Homo sapiens: one gene and its partners. The protein of the gene in region 2 interacts with the protein of the main gene of each other region in a biochemical or structural test. Each region holds a gene or a part of one and is shown on either strand. Other genes may lie near its edges.

Evidence for each region.
Region 1: the proteins of UBE2O (region 2) and RECQL4 form a complex in vitro, tested with the Homo sapiens proteins (one study listed by BioGRID).
Region 3: the proteins of UBE2O (region 2) and MXI1 form a complex in vitro, tested with the Homo sapiens proteins (one study listed by BioGRID).
Region 4: the proteins of UBE2O (region 2) and PRKN form a complex in vitro, tested with the Homo sapiens proteins (one study listed by BioGRID).

What each region holds. Positions count from the first base shown.
Region 1 is NC_000008.11:144,510,389-144,514,860, forward strand, and holds the end of RECQL4 (ATP-dependent DNA helicase Q4), read right to left. Parts: intron 4,138-4,472; coding exon 4,054-4,137; intron 3,975-4,053; coding exon 3,801-3,974; intron 3,720-3,800; coding exon 3,540-3,719; intron 3,325-3,539; coding exon 3,183-3,324; intron 3,093-3,182; coding exon 2,830-3,092; intron 2,751-2,829; coding exon 2,459-2,750; coding exon of another isoform or gene 2,384-2,458; coding exon 2,254-2,383; intron 2,174-2,253; coding exon 2,004-2,173; intron 1,937-2,003; coding exon 1,756-1,936; intron 1,680-1,755; coding exon 1,523-1,679; coding exon of another isoform or gene 1,514-1,522; intron 1,402-1,513; coding exon 1,293-1,401; intron 1,168-1,292; coding exon 1,043-1,167; 3' UTR 900-1,042; downstream 1-899. Other genes in the region: SLC33A2 (major facilitator superfamily domain-containing protein 3), read left to right, coding at 1-119, 210-334, 406-776. UniProt on the Homo sapiens protein: An ATP-dependent DNA helicase which unwinds dsDNA with a 3'-overhang in a 3'-5' direction. Does not unwind more than 18 bp of dsDNA. May modulate chromosome segregation. The N-terminal domain (residues 1-54) binds DNA Y-shaped DNA better than ss- or dsDNA.
Region 2 is NC_000017.11:76,446,523-76,450,448, reverse strand, and holds part of UBE2O ((E3-independent) E2 ubiquitin-conjugating enzyme), read left to right. Parts: intron 1-3,926. UniProt on the Homo sapiens protein: E2/E3 hybrid ubiquitin-protein ligase that displays both E2 and E3 ligase activities and mediates monoubiquitination of target proteins. Negatively regulates TRAF6-mediated NF-kappa-B activation independently of its E2 activity.
Region 3 is NC_000010.11:110,210,397-110,214,322, forward strand, and holds part of MXI1 (max-interacting protein 1), read left to right. Parts: intron 1-2,471; exon of another isoform or gene 2,472-3,926. UniProt on the Homo sapiens protein: Transcriptional repressor. MXI1 binds with MAX to form a sequence-specific DNA-binding protein complex which recognizes the core sequence 5'-CAC[GA]TG-3'. MXI1 thus antagonizes MYC transcriptional activity by competing for MAX.
Region 4 is NC_000006.12:161,349,643-161,352,993, forward strand, and holds part of PRKN (E3 ubiquitin-protein ligase parkin), read right to left. Parts: intron 570-3,351; coding exon 457-569; 3' UTR 1-456. UniProt on the Homo sapiens protein: Functions within a multiprotein E3 ubiquitin ligase complex, catalyzing the covalent attachment of ubiquitin moieties onto substrate proteins. Substrates include SYT11 and VDAC1.

The DNA of each region.
Region 1 (4,472 bases), on a different chromosome or scaffold from region 2:
CTTCTCCTGCTGGACCACGGCGTTTCTGCTCCCGAGTTGGGACTGTGGAATGGTGTGGGTGCTGTGGTCTGCTCCATCGCTGGCTCCTCCCTGGGTGGGACCTTGCTGGCCAAGCACTGGTGAGCCCTCCCCAGTGTACCCTGCCCACCCACTTGTACCTGAGCTGCCCCCAATCCACTATACTGACCCATTTCCCACCCCCATCCCAGGAAACTGCTGCCTCTGTTGAGGTCGGTGCTGCGCTTCCGCCTCGGGGGCCTAGCCTGTCAGACTGCCTTGGTCTTCCACCTGGACACCCTGGGGGCCAGCATGGACGCTGGCACAATCTTGAGAGGTGAGGGGCTGGCCTTGAGGAGGAAGAGAGGGGCCAGGAGCCTGGGGCACTGCTGACTTCTGCCCTCCCAGGGTCAGCCTTGCTGAGCCTATGTCTGCAGCACTTCTTGGGAGGCCTGGTCACCACAGTCACCTTCACTGGGATGATGCGCTGCAGCCAGCTGGCCCCCAGGGCCCTGCAGGTGAGTAGATGTAGCAGGGACACAAGAGAGACCACGGGGCTGGGGCTGTGTGGGCCTGACCTTGACCGTGACCCCCACCCCCCTCAGGCCACACACTACAGCCTTCTGGCCACGCTGGAGCTGCTGGGGAAGCTGCTGCTGGGCACTCTGGCCGGAGGCCTGGCTGATGGGTTGGGGCCACATCCCTGCTTCTTGCTCCTGCTCATCCTCTCTGCCTTTCCCGTTCTGTACCTGGACCTAGCACCCAGCACCTTTCTCTGAGCTGAGTGGCTGGAGTGGTCAATAAAGCCACATGTGCCTGTGGCCCAGATGTCTCTGTGCCTGGAATATGTGATGTGCTTGTCCCCAGCTTGTGGGGGTTGCCTCATTGGCCAAGAGGGCCCATAAAAACAAAGTGAGCATTTTTTATTCTGCATTTTGGAGCCTCCTCGTTCCCACACCCTGTGGCAGGTTTTGCCCAGGTCCTCAGTCACTGCCCTAGCCTCTGACAACCCCAGCTCTACCCGACATCCCCCAATGCAGTGCAGTCAGCGGGCCACCTGCAGGAGCTCTTCCGTGGCCAGGCCCACCAGGGCATGGAAGCTCAGGTGCAGGTATTTTCTCCAGAAGCGTCGGTCCTGCCCGTACACCTGGGCCGGGTAGCAGGGGCTTCCTACGGTGGAGCCAAGACACAGCCGTGAGCCCCAGCCCCAGCCTGCAGCGGGTGGAGCCTCCCAGGCCTCACCTGCCCCAGCCCCCAGCCCCAGCCTGCAGCGGGTGGGGCCTCCCAGGCCTCACCGATGCCGTGGAAGATGCGGGCCACAGCCCTGCTGGAGAACTTCTCCTCTGGCCTCAGGGACAGGAACTGGCGGATGTCGCAGCGGACCTGGTCCTCCCAATCCTGGAGCTGTGTGGACAGGCACATCAGGCTTCCTCTGAGCTCCCGTGGCACTGCATCCACAGAGCAAGCCCCATGCAGCCCAGGGAACCTGCAACCCCGATGAGCTGCCTGGCCTTACTGCACTCACTCTGGCCTGCCCTGGCTCGGGGCCCTGTGCGTCCTCCATGCCTCCCGGCTCCTGCCCTTCCTCTTCCTCAAAGTAGCGGCCGAGCAGGTCCTTGAGCCTGGTGCTGCGCTCCTCATCCTGCTGCTCCAGGCAGGGCCCGCAGCTGGGGAAGGCTACGCTGTGGGGAGGAGCCTGTCAGAGCTGATCACTGCGGGAGGGTGGATGGTCCCAGGCCCCGCCCGCCTCCTCCCAACCTGTGAAAGGCCTGGAAGGTTCTGCGCAGACGGGCCAGGGCCTGGCGCTCCCGGGCCTGCACACGGCCATAGAGGAAGTCACATATCTGGTCCTTCTCCTCAGCGGTCAAGTCCCCCGGGCTGCGAAGGTGGAAGGCCAGCTCACTGAACTCCACAAGCACCCCTGTCCCACGCCGCACACCTGCCGGAAAGCATGTCAGATGCAGGCAGGCAGCGTCCAGGGCGGTGTGGGGTGGGGAGAGGCGCACCTGTCCTGGGCTCGTGGTCCCACTGCAGCTGGCAGAGAGCCCGCCGCACAGAGGCCAGCTCCCAGCCCATGGAGTCCACCAGCTTGACCATGTCAAACTCCACGGAGCTGCTGCCTTGCCCTGGGTCCTCAGGCAGCTGCTGGGCCAAGCACACAGCCAAAGGGGGACACCTGTGCCCAGGGAAAAAGGGACATGTGGCCAACAGCCCTGATTCTCCAACCTCGTCTCCAACTGGGCAGGGCGTGCTTACCTGTGGGCCAGGGCCTGGAGCTGGGCAGGGCCCCCAGGGCAGTTCAGACGGCAATGGGTATAGGTGGTCGCCAGCAGCTCCAGCCAGTGGTGTGGGTGCAGCTCCAGGTAGCACAGCAAAGTCTCGATGGCTGGGGGCAGAGCAGGGCTCAGCGGACGCGGGGACAGCCCCTCCACACCCCTGTGGCTTACCCCAGGTTCCTCACCCTCCTCCGGCATGTCCAAAGCCTGTACGGTAAGCTGTATTGGGAGTGCCCGCTCATGGCCCATGCAGACCCTTCTGGGTCCTGGGGCTGCTTGGTGGCTAAGCTGCTCAGCCTCTTGAGGGGGGTACTTGGGCACAGGCCTCTCCCCACCCACGGCCCCTTCCTGCTCCGAGGGCGGCCTGGTGCAGGTGCAGGTGCAGGCTGGGAACACGCGCTGTACCAGCCTCTTCACAGCCAGGAAGTCCGTGCTGTCGGCGTGCACATGTCTGCGCAGCTCTCGCAGGTCTTCGCCCTGCAGGGCAACTTTCATGAGGGTGGGGTGGACCACTGGGGGCTCGAGCACTGGCAGTGTGGGGGGGGGGGGTGCCAACCTGGGGCTGCAGGAAGAGGTGGCAGTGGGCAGGCTGCCCGTCACGCCCGGCCCGGCCCACGGCCTGCACGTAGCTCTCGAAGCTTGGGGGCAGCCCCAGATGCAGCACAGCCCGCACATCTGGCCGGTCCAGCCCCATCCCAAAGGCCACCGTGGCCACCACCACCCGCAACTGGCCCTGCATGAAGGCTCGCTGTACCCGCCGCCGTTCCCGGCTGCACATGCCCGCGTGGTAGGCCTCGGCTGTGGTTTTGGGGGCACGACCTTTGGGGAAGACAGGCAGATGGTCAGTGGGATGGGACCATGTGTGCCCAAGGTGGGTCCACGGGGACACCAGCTCTGTCCATGCCGCACCTCCAGACCCTGGGACCCAGGCTGCGTGCAGGCAGGTTCGGAGGAGCGCAGCGATCCGCTCTGTGTCCTCGCGCCGGTTGCAGTAAATGATAATGGAATCGAGGTTTTGAAAACGTTTGCCTTGCAGCAGCGTCAACAGTGCCTGATGAGGAGCGGTTGGCGTGGGCAGTGGGGAGTGAGGAGGGGTCGGCGTGTGCAGTGGGGAGTGAGGAGGGGTCGGCGTGGGGAGTGAGGAGGGGTCGGCGTGGGCGGTGGGGAGTGAGAAGGGGTCGGCGTGGGCGGTGGGGAGTGAGGAGGGGTCGGCGTGGGCAGTCAGCAGCCAGGGCCCTGCAGGGTCCCCAGAGCACACACACCCACCTGGTCTGTGTCCCTGTCCATGGACACGGAAAGGTGCAGGTTGGTGGGAACTGGGGCTGGCCCGTGGAGGTCAGGCTCTTCAGCCACAGCCAGGTGCTGTGCCACGTCACTGGCAGTGCGGCGTGTGGCTGTGGCTGTGAGGCCCAGGAAGCAGTGCACGCCCATGCGCTCCCGAAGCACCTGCACCAGAGGCGGCAGTGGTGTGAGGCCGCCCAGCCCATCCCGGCCCTGGCCGCCCACCCCAGTTCACATATGGCTCACCTTGCAGACGCGCAGGTAGCAGGGCCGGAAGTTGTGGGACCACTGGGAGAGGCAGTGGGCCTCATCAATGCAGGCAAAAGCAACTGGAGGCAGCTGTGCGGCTGGAGGGAGGCCTCCCGCCCCCACCAGTGCCTCAGGTGTCAGCATCAGCACGTGTACCTGGGCTGCCCGAATCTGAAGGCAGCAAGATCAGAGGCACAGCCCAGGTGCCCGCCCGCTGCCTCCCTCACCCCTAGGCCCATGAGGCCCCCACCTTCTGCAGGACAGATTCCCGTTGCTTCCTGGTCATGCCCGAGTGTATGCAGGCCGCCTTGAGACACGGTGGCAGGCCAGACACCTGCAAATGCAGGAGCGACAGCCGTCATACGCCAGCCCAGCCCTGGCCCTTCCCCAAGTCATCCCAGAGCTGCTGCCATGTCCATCCTAGTCCCTCAGGGGAGAGGAGAACCAGGTCCTGGGTCCTAGGGCTAAGGGTTTAGAGCCACCTGTGGGCCTTGGCCCAGGAGCCCCAGAGCAGACAGACTGAAGTAGGGATGGCTCCTTTCCCAGCACATTTCCCGTAGGGGTGGCTGTGGTGCCTGTGGAGCTGGGCTGCCTTTGACCTGCTGCCAAGACTGGGACTGAGGCCACAGACACCTTGAAGCTCCCAGGGGAGGGGGTGGTTAGGGGACA
Region 2 (3,926 bases):
ATGCCCATTTATGGGTGGCAAGATATAGTTCTTTTAGGATTTAGAATAGGTTTGTTTTGGAGGGTGGAGTTTATACCTGATAGGTAGCTCTGTTACCATGAGCTATAGATACAGGTGACTGATTAGCTGAATGTCTCCTGGTCTGTTACTGACCACCAAGCAGGGTGGTAGGGTGGGTCCTGGGACCTTGCAGAACTGTGGCTTAGGATGATTTTTCTTCTCACCTCCTGCTCCTTATGAATTCCATCAAGGTGATAGTATGCCGTAAAGGAAAGACCATTAGACCAAGATTGACTAATCTAGTTATGAGATTTGAGAACCCAATTATTGACAAAATAATGTAGTGGCAGATTTTTTTTTTTTTTTGAGTTACTGGTTTGTTTATTATTTTTGGGATGGGGTCTCACTGTTACTCAGGTGTCCTTGAATTCCTGGTCTCACACAATCCTCCTGCCTCAGCCTCCCAGGTAGCTGGGACTACAGTAGTGATGGTTTTGAGAAACTTATTTTTTATTTATTTATGTTTTTGAGACGGAGTTTTGCTCTTGTTGCCCAGGCTGGAGTGCAATGGCGCCAGCTCGGCTCACCGCAACCTCTGCCTCCCGGGTTCAAGCGATTCTCCTACCTCAGCCTCCCGAGTAGCTGGGATTACAGGCATACGCCATCACGCCCGGCTAATTTTTTGTATTTTTAGTGGAGACGGGGTTTCTCCGTGGTGGCCAGGCTGTTCTTGAACTCCTGACCTCAGGTGATCCGCCCGCCTCGGCCTCCCAAAGTGCTGGGATTACAGGCAGGAGCCACCGCACCCGCCCGAAACTTATTTTTTTTAATAAGCTGCTACCTATTGAAAATTTTTGTGTGTGAGTTTCTTTTTTAAACAGAGTCTCTCTCTGTCACCCAGGCTGGAGTGCAGTGGCACGATCTCAGCTCATTACAACCTCAACTTCCCGGGTTCAAGTGATTCTTGTGCCTCAGCCTCCCGCATAGCTGGGATTATGGGCATGCGCCATCACACCCAGCTAATTTTTGTATTTTTAGTAGAGACGGCAGTTTGCCATTTTGGCCAGGCTGGTCTTGAACTTCTGGCCTCAAGTGATTCACCGGCCTTGGCCTCCCCAAGTGCTGGAATTACAGGCATAAGCCACAGTGCCTTGCCCCATTGAAATTTTTTAGTAGTATCTATTTAATGTGGAGTGTTTCATAGGGTGTGGCGTATTTTTGTAGTTTTCTCTGTAAATTGGAGGGCAATGAGTAAAGGCTTAATCTTAGTCTCAAGTTTTTAGTGAACAAATTTACAAAGAGAGATGAAGAGACTGGGCAGCAAGTCATGTCCTTTCCCTGCTGCCTTCATGAAAATAGCAACAGAAACAAAGTAAGTTCTTCCATGAAGCTATGGAATTTGTCGTGTTCCTGAGGCTTCCAGCCACCAAAATTAAGCCTCTTAAGGACTCAAAAGGAGCTAGTGGCCAGTGTCTCTTATATGCTTCTTCCTTTCTCCAGTCTTCTGACCTGTTCAGCGAGGTAGCCACTTGAAACTGTCCATCTGGCCATGGATCTCCTTAGAGGAGGCTTGCCCCTTCCCCATCACCAGTCATCCTTTGAATAAAATTTTGTAACAAAGCCAAATGCCAGCAGCCACTTAAACCTTCATGAGCACTGGCTAGACGTGGTGGGTCCTTCTGGTCTCCACCTGTCATGGTTGGGCAGAACAGCCCCCTGCGAGGTAAGGGAGCAGGACTGCTGTCTGTCAGTTCAAGTTCAGCCTTCGTTTCGGAGGCAAAGCGTTTATGCTTTAGCTTTCTTGTGCTTTTTCATCTCTTTTGCATTGTCTTTTGTTTTAAGTTGCCATGACATTCAGGGTTTCACCAGGTTTGAGATATAGTGCCTCTAAATTAGGGCTGTCTGTGATCACCCTGCTTTTATGAAGCTGTGTGTGTGAAACATCCCTGATGACAGGTCCCTCGGGAATTGGCTTTGCAGTTTATTTTTGGCTCCTACGCTGGCCAGCATTTCCATGGGGAAAGCTATTTAGGTGTAGCATCATGGCACGTGAAGTTTGTCTCACTTGTCTGGGTGCTGGGCCCATTAAAAGCAATTGTTCTTAGTGATGTAATGTGAAGAAGTTATATAAGGTTAACCAAGATGCAGGACTAAGTGAATCTAAATTGCGTTTTATTCAGATAGGATCACAGCACTTGTAGACTCTTAACAGCTGTTCTGTGATTTTATTCTTTGTCCCTTGATTTTTCCCCTTCTAGCCCTCGGGCCTCAGTGCCCTGATGGTGCTTCTGTCTGGCTGCTGCCTGACTCAAGGGTACTTTCCCCAGATGAAGGGTGTGTGTTTTGTACTGTGATTGGAAGCCAAAACCCTTGGGTGCTCTTCCTGGCTGTCACCTACTCTGAATGACCTTGACCAAGTCACTGCCTCATTTTCTCCCTCTGCAATGAAATAAGAGGTCTATCTTCCTAACCCCGATATGATCCTGCTCGGATGGAATAACCAGAAGTGTAGCTGGGTCAAGCCTAGGATGGCCACTTGGTTATTAGCAGACAGCATTCTGATGTCTGTCAGAGAGAGCCAGCCCTGTGCCTTCAGAAGATCACTTCCATGAGAAAGAGGGTGATGCTGCACCAAAGAGGCACCTTGGGAAGCAAAAGGTGCACGAGGCGGGTTGTGGGGAAGGTGGTTGTTTCAGGGGCATAGGAATTCCTAATGGCTCGTGTTGCTAGTGACCAGATGGATTATAGGTTTGACTTTATTAAACCTCTTCTAGAAATACTCATGAACTTCCTACCTCTGTTACTTTGTGAGAAATTCAGTAATGCACATTTAAAGTAACCCCGGCCGTCCTCCAGGAGGGGGATGGAATGAATCTGTATGTATGTATGTATGTTTCCAGAGTCTGAAAGGTCTCTTGAAATTCTCAAGACTGGTAATGAGATTATAAATTACAAAGATGATAGAGTATTGCTTTATATTTTAAGGTAATAAGAGCAGTCATGATCCAGGATACTGTTACTGTGTGCCAGGCACTCTTAGTGCTTTAGATGTTTTACTTCACGCTCACAACAACCCTGTGGTGCTATTATTAGCCCCATATTCCAGAGAAGGAAGCTGAGGAACAGAGAGGTTAAGTAAATTGCCCAGTGTCACACTTCTAAGTGGAGGAATCTGAATACAAATTGAACTAAATGTACTTTGTTCTCACCTGAGAATACTTAAGTTCAGGATTCAGAGATCATTACTATACGTGACCGAGTGCCCTGATCCAACATGAATCACAAGCCTTGTGGTTGGCATTAATCATCCCTTCTTTAAACAGTTGAAAGTCTTAGTGTAATAGGAGGTACTACAAGTGAGGAAGGAGAGAGGCACAGGATGTTGGGATAGGTGGAAGTTGTGCCAGTGGGCAGGCAGGAGGGAGGGAGATGATGGGTAGGGAGCAGGACGGGAGGAACACTGCATTCGCACTGGCGGTGTGCTTCTGCAGATTCCACTCTTTTCATTCCCTGACCCCTCAGTCATTCTCAAAATAACTGTCAAAAACACATTGCATTTCTAGAGAACCTTTGACTGCCCCTCAATGTTGAATGAAGCAACCTCTGTAGTCTGATTCATTCCAACACTGAACTGCAGTTCAGTTTTATTCCCCAACTCCACCTCCTAGAGCAAAACAAGTGTGCAGACACTCCACGTAACTGGCATTTCTGTGTTGCCTCAGAAGTGGTCAGCTCCATTAGGAGCTCCAACTTGACCTCCTGTCCGCTCTGCTGCTGTCATCCTTCGGCTGGGAATGCTGAGTCATGAGACAGGTTCAGGAAGGATTCCTTGGAGAGGCTGAGTTCCACCTCAATTTCAGTTTCTGTTCCCTTCAGTTTCCGTGTGTTTTTGCTTTAGGACATTAGAGGCCTCTTTGCACCTTCCC
Region 3 (3,926 bases), on a different chromosome or scaffold from region 2:
TTTCGCCGCTGCTGTTTGGCTCTAAATGACGTGATGCCAACGGCCCCCAGATTTCCCCGAGAGCTTGGGGCGCCGCGCCGTGCCCAGTTTGGCTGCAGAGACCCCGCTCCAGGCCCTCGCCCCGTCCCCAACAGCTCGAACAGGCTGGGGTGACCTCCGGCAAACTCCGTGCGACCATCCGCCAGGCCCTCTGTTATCCCCCTTGCAAAGAGAAGCGGTCCACGGGGGCCACTTTATCCCACCCCCTCTCCTCCCCTCCTCCTGCCCGGTCTAGGTCTCTGGGTACGGAAAACGGCGGGCCCTACATCTGCCTCGTTTTATGGGGGGCGCTTCTTCGCGCTGGCGGCGCTCGTCGTTGTTTTCTGCTCGCTGCACACAATGCCCGCGCGTCACGGCAATCCGCGTGTGCACAGCAATAACGCGAGTCGGGGGGCGGGTCGTGCGTGCGCCCGGCTCGGGCACTGCGGGTCGCTCGGCGCGCGCGGGGCTTGTTTTGCTCCAGAGCTCTGCTTTCCGAAACGCTTACATCATTCAGTCGTTGGGGGAGGGAGAGGGATCTGGGCGTTCCGATAGGATTCCAGCATCTACCGGGTCCCTGGTTTCTGGAAGGAAGCAGGGACCCTAGCTTTTTAGTAGTTATTATTGGGGGTGGGGTTGGGTAGTTTGTTGTGTACGTCTTTTTTTTTTTTTTTTTCGGTCACTACTGCAAAAGGGCATCGTTGGCCGACTCAGGTGCACAACCTCCCCGCCTTCATTTCAGCGAGTTCCCCTATAATCACTTGATCTCGGTTTCTCCGCCTTCTCCTCCTCCCCCTCCCAGCTAGAGACACATGGTTTCCACATGGAGACAAACTTCTTTCCTCCGACTGGACTTGACCTAGCTGCGTCGTTCAGCCAATCGGCAGCTCCAGCCTCTTCTGACGTCACGCGTTGCTGGGGCCGGAGGCTGGGTGGGGGGTGGAGCCAGGCTGCAAGCCAGGAAATCTCTGGGAGCTGTAGTGCGGCCAGCTGGTCCAGTCTCTTCTTAAAGGGACGCTCTTCTGTCCGGAGATGAGTGTCGGGCCCCGATTCTCCATTTCGGGTTCGGTGAGACCTTTCTGAGATGCATGGTGGACCCTGGTCACGAGTTAACACGTTCCGTTTTTACTGCTGTTTGCGAAGTACTTACTTGGCAGGAGCTTGCCTTATTTTCCATCGTAGCCAGAACTGCTTTTCGTTCCCTTGTTGAGGTTTCCGTACTGGTAGTGTTCACCAAGTTGTGGCCACATGGCTGAATTACTTCCAGTGGAGAGGTTGAGTTTTCTTGGAGGAGGGGTTCAAATTAAGTCACATTGTTGACTGTCTGCTGTGTGCAAGGCAGGGGGGATTCCCTAGGAAAGGCAGGTACATTCTCCCAAAACTCCAACTGATGTGAATCTCTACGGATCACAAATTGAAGGCCTCCAGAAATATTAATCATGAAGGCTGTGATCCTATTACCACAAATTCAGAAATTATATGTAAATAATCTCTGACATCATCACCTATATGCATTTTGAGTCCAGTGGAAGGGTGGGAATTAAGGACTGACTAATAAGTAGAAAAAGATCTTGGAAAAGGTTAAAACTAAAAGAGAAGAACAGATCCATAAAGGGATGTTATGTGCATAAGAGCCGACTGGCAGGTAAGTGAAACAAGCTGTGAGAGCAGGTAAGGTCTGGAGGAGAGAAATGGGCTTCCTAGTGTCTGGAGGAGGTTGCTTTGGAGGCAACACTTAAGATAGGGAAGGACGATCAGATGAGAGTAGAAAGCCATAAGGCTCCTTGGAGTGGATCACCTGGGTTTGAGGGTGGGGTGCTTTCCTAGGGGCACGGACAGCCCAAGAAACAGCCTGTTCCTCCTGGTAGAGGAAGCTGCTGTTGTGTGGTGTCATTTGGCCCCACCCTGCCTTCTGACTTAATCTCCTCTTCCTTGCCCTGAAACCTCTGTGTCTGTACAGCAGATCCACCAGCAAGCAGGCTTCACAGTCGAACCTCTGTGCTCGACTTAGACTCTTCCACTGTCTAGAATGCTTTCATTCTCTTACTCCCCTAGGGATATCTGTATCCTACCTTCTCTTCAAGACTTAGATCAGTTTCCACCTCCTCCAGGAAGCTTCCCCTAGCTATTTCAGCCCATTTGGCTCTATTTGTTAAGTCATTGTACTTGAGAGAATGAAACCTTTGCAGTCACATGGAGCAGGGCCCAGCTTGCTACTCTACTGCTTACTGGCTTTGTGACTTTGGACACAACTTACTTAGCCTGAGGTTCCATTTCCTTTTTGCAAAATGGGGATAACAATAGTATGACCCTCATATCATTGTCAAACAACTCAATGAGGCACTGCACTTAAATATTTAACGTACCTGAGATATAATAGGTGCTCAATAAATAGCAACTTCTCTGAGCTTTGATAATCAGTACCATGCACTTCTCTACTTGCTTCCTGTGTGTTAGCTTTACCTTTACAAGGAGTTTATTAGTAACTTAAGAGAAAAGATCACTTACAGTATTCAATGCATGTTACCCATTGCATATAGCACACCACTGGGCATACAGTAGTAGATCCTTAATATAAATGTTTTGATTGGTTAGATTTGTCATTTACTGCTAGCTATGGCACGAGGATCAGGTTTGGAGGCCAGGGGACACGTGACAGCCTTTCCGAAGATTTGGAGACGAGTCAGAAATACTGATCTCCAACTCCCTTGGGTGGTGAGACCAATCCCTGCAAGAAGATGATAGTTCAGACCTGAAGAGCTGAGACTGCATCCTGTGAACAGCTGTGACCCTGAGAAACAAATAAGAAAGAAGGAGACTAGAGTGACTTCTGCTGAAATCGAGGGCTTTGATGGCAACTAATGTTCAAGCTGGTCACGTTTTTGCATGGCAGCAATCTTATGAATTCATACATTCTTCAAATGTACATTGAATGTCTACTATGTGCAGATGCTTCTTTCTGAAAACTCTGTAGGTTGAAGTATGGTGGGGGTGGAGTAGGGTATTTGTCTTTAGTGGAGTTATGTGAAGAGCATTCTTAAATCAGGCCCTATTTCCTCTGCATCCCAAATTATGTTCCCCAGATTCAACTTATTTTTTCCAGTTTTAAATATGATCTCTGCTGACTGGTAAATACCAGAAGAAGGCTTTTTTGAGGATATTGTTACGGCTTTCAGAATCACGGAGCTCCCAAGGACTGTGTGTCCTGGAAAGGAGATCCAGGGAAAGGGGACAGGGCCTTGGAAGTTAGAGAAGTTGAATTGAGCCATTCCTGGTTTGGGAGCAAAAAGGAGGCTCCATTAGCTACCAAGGCAAAACAGTAGCTGCTCATCCATCTCTCATCTCTGATGGAAACAGTCTCCCACTGACACATCCAGAAATGGGGATTCATCTGGAGATGCCTGGGCAAAAGTCTAGAGGTGAAACTGAGGAAAATGAAGAGGGTGCTGGCGTGCAGCAGCAGCAACTAATTGTATGGCATAATATCAATAATGGCTACAATTTATTGAACACTGACTATATTCCAAGTATGGGGCTATGCATTCATTATCTCCCCTGATCTTCACAACAACCTTCTGATGGATGCAATTTTATTACCCTCTTTTACGGAGGAGGGAACTGAGGAGCAGGGATGCCAGGTAATTTGCCCAAAGGATATATAGCTAGTAAGTCGCGGAGCTGAGTTTTGAACTTAGGCCTCTGATTCCAGAGCCTGTGCTCTTAACCATATACACATGTACTCATTTCACAGCCAAGGAATGAAGTCCAGAGAAGTGAAATGACTTACTCAAGGTCACCCAGGAACCTGAAGCAGAGCTGGTATTTGAAACACCTTGTTTATTGTCCAAGGTCTTCCTGCACACACCTTGCTTAGAAAAGGTTTCGAAGTGAGGCTGGAGTCAGAAGAG
Region 4 (3,351 bases), on a different chromosome or scaffold from region 2:
GCATCTTCATGGTGTTTACTGAAGGTAAAAGGCAGGATATTAAATGTGAGAACTCTCTCTCCAGCTACTGATTCTGCCTGTCTCGAATTCAGGTGAGAATGACCCATACAGATACATGGATTGCACTTGAATCTGTGCTCTGGTATTTGTGTCATCCGGAGGCTGAGAACGCCTGTTGGTGGTGTCGCAGATGGCTCTGCTGTCTTGTGTGGACAAACTGAAAGGGATTCAGGAGCTTCTTCTGTAATTTTACTCTGCTGTTTTTCATGGACATAGTGAAAGGGATCCAGGAGTTTCTTCTGCAATTTGGCTGTAGTTGGACTTTGAAAAAAACTTGAAGAGTGTGTGTGCGCGCGCGCGCGTGTGTGTGTGTGTTTGAAAAGAGAATTAGAAAATGAAGGTAGACACTGGGTATGCTCCCCCAGGATGTGGCGATGGGGCGCCCGGCCGCCCTGGCTACACGTCGAACCAGTGGTCCCCCATGCAGACGCGGTTCCACTCGCAGCCACAGTTCCAGCACCACTCGAGCCTGCACTGGGGCTGCGGACACTTCATGTGCATGCAGCCTCCTGTTGGGGGCAGAAAACAAAGGTGTGGTGGGTTCGCAGCAAGTACCTGGAAAACACGCATTCCCAAACCAGCACGCTAGCCTAGACATCACTTTCTGAGCGAATAATCACAAGCAATACAAGGGCAGAGAGAAACTTAACTGAGGGGAAAAACTTCATAAAGCACAATAGGGCAGCTCTAAAGTGATGATATTCATTAAGAAATGAATGAAATTGAAGCATGTCACTTTTGTCGGGAACAAATTTTATTTGTAAATCTGACTTTATTCTCCTGAAAGGGGATTTAGAGACAAACACTTCATGTTTCATAGATAGGGGTCAATTCCTCATTTAAATATATTCAAATATTAATATATTTATATTTAAAATATATAAATATATTTTTATATATTTATATTTAAAATATATATATTTTTATATATTTATATTTAAAATATATATATTTTTATATATTTATATTTAAAATATATATATTTTTATATATTTATATTTAAAATATATATATTTTTATATATTTATATTTAAAATATATATATTTTTATATATTTATATTTAAAATATATATATTTTTATATATTTATATTTAAAATATATATATTTTTATATATTTATATTTAAAATATATATATTTTTATATATTTATATTTAAAATATATATATTTTTATATATTTATATTTAAAATATATATAAATATATTTTATATATTTATATTTAAAATATATATAAATATATTTTATATATTTATATTTAAAATATATATAAATATATTTTATATATTTATATTTAAAATATATATAAATATATTTTATATATTTATATTTAAAATATATATAAATATATTTTATATATTTATATTTAAAATATATATAAATATATTTTTATATATTTATATTTAAAATATATATAAATATATTTTTATATATTTATATTTAAAATATATATAAATATATTTATATTTAAATATATTGATAAAATTTGATGATATAACCTAATATAATGTATAATAATTTAAATATATTTTGATTTATTTTTGCTCTTTCTATAGTGCCACTTACTTGGCTTGGCCAAATTCATAAAACAGGAACTGGGATAGCATATTGTAATTATTATTATTTCTATTTTTTTTTTTGAGATGGAGTTTTGCTCTTGTCGTCCAGGCTGGAGTGCAGTGGCGAGATCTTGGCTCACTGCAACCCCCACCTCCCAGGTTCAAGTGATTCTCTGGCCTCAGCCTCCCGAGTAGCTGGGATTACAGGCGCCCACCAACATGCCCAGCTAATTTTTGAATTTTTCGTAGAGACAGGGTTTTGCCATGTTGGCCAGGCTGGTCTCAAACTCCTGACCTCAAGTCATCCTCCCGCCTCGGCCTCCCAAAGTGCTGGGATTACAGGCGTGAGCTACCGCACCCAGCCAGCATATTATTTTTAATAGGGAATATGTTCCTTAATGCTATCCAAAATTTTAATTAAGATGAGAGGGATAGAAAGGAAGTAATTAATAATGCTAGGTGTTCTATGTATATTATCTCATTTGCTTCCCAAAGCACTTTGAGATAAGAGCATCACTCTGCTATAGAATTTCCCCAAGGTGAAGCACTTTTAAATGGTGAAGACAATGATCTCACCAAGGTCTGTGTGATTCCAATGTCCTGTCATTCACAGAACAGGTTATTTTCAGCATAAGAGGAAAAGTCCCTTATCTTGGAACTTATTTTGGAATTATTCACCTCCCTCACTTGTTAAACATAGACTCCATGAGTTTCTGGAGTGCACACAGCCCTGCTTCAGTCGCTGTGGGGGAACTGAAGGGAGGAGGAAGTGATTTGTATGAGGATGTACAGAGAACTGTTTCTGTCCAAATTTCCTGGAAAACCCCGGCAAACGCAGTTTCTTTGCTTGAATCCCACCTAGCGTTGAAGGTGCTCCATTACTCACTCTTACCAATTATCTTGTTAATTGATTTTTCCTGCCAAATTTTCCAAGTAATTGGTTCGGTGCTGTCTCACTTTTATTATTAGAAACCTGGCATGAGAACTTTCACTAATTTAAAATATTTATGAATATATAGGAATAGGCATTTGTTTTAAGATAACTTGCCGACATGCAAAATCTCCTGTTTTCCTAATCCTTTCTGGCTTGTTTTAAAGATCATAAATTACAGATCTGTGGAAAATAAAGGAGAAAACTTACAACACTTTTATCTTCATACTTTCCACTTAGGTTTGTGCCATTTTCAGCACATATTGCATGGTTGTATATTTATGATGTAAATAATATGTTATATGGTGTGACATTATAAAACCACTTGTTTCTCTAAAATATCATAAATATTTTATCATATCATAAATATATCATTATTATATCATGTATCGTAAAATATATTCAATCAAAATTATTGAGCAATACATTAAAACTTAATGAACTATTAAAGCAATTCTAAATGAAAGGGTAAGAAACTTTCCTATTGTGATATTTAATATATATAAGCATATATAAACACAAATATGTATGAAGAGTGTGTGTGTGTGTGTGTGTGTGTGTGTGTATATATATATATATATTTTATTTTATTTTATTTTATTTTTTTGAGATGGAGTCTCGCTCTGTCGCCCAGGCTGGAGTACAGGGCGCGATCTGGGCTCACTGCCACCTCTGCCTCCCGGGTTCAAGCAATTCTCCTGCCTCAGCCTCTCGAGTAGTTGGAATTACAGGCACCTGCCACCACGCCTGGCTAAATTTTGTATTTTTAGTAGAGACGGGGTTTCACCATGTTGACCAGGCT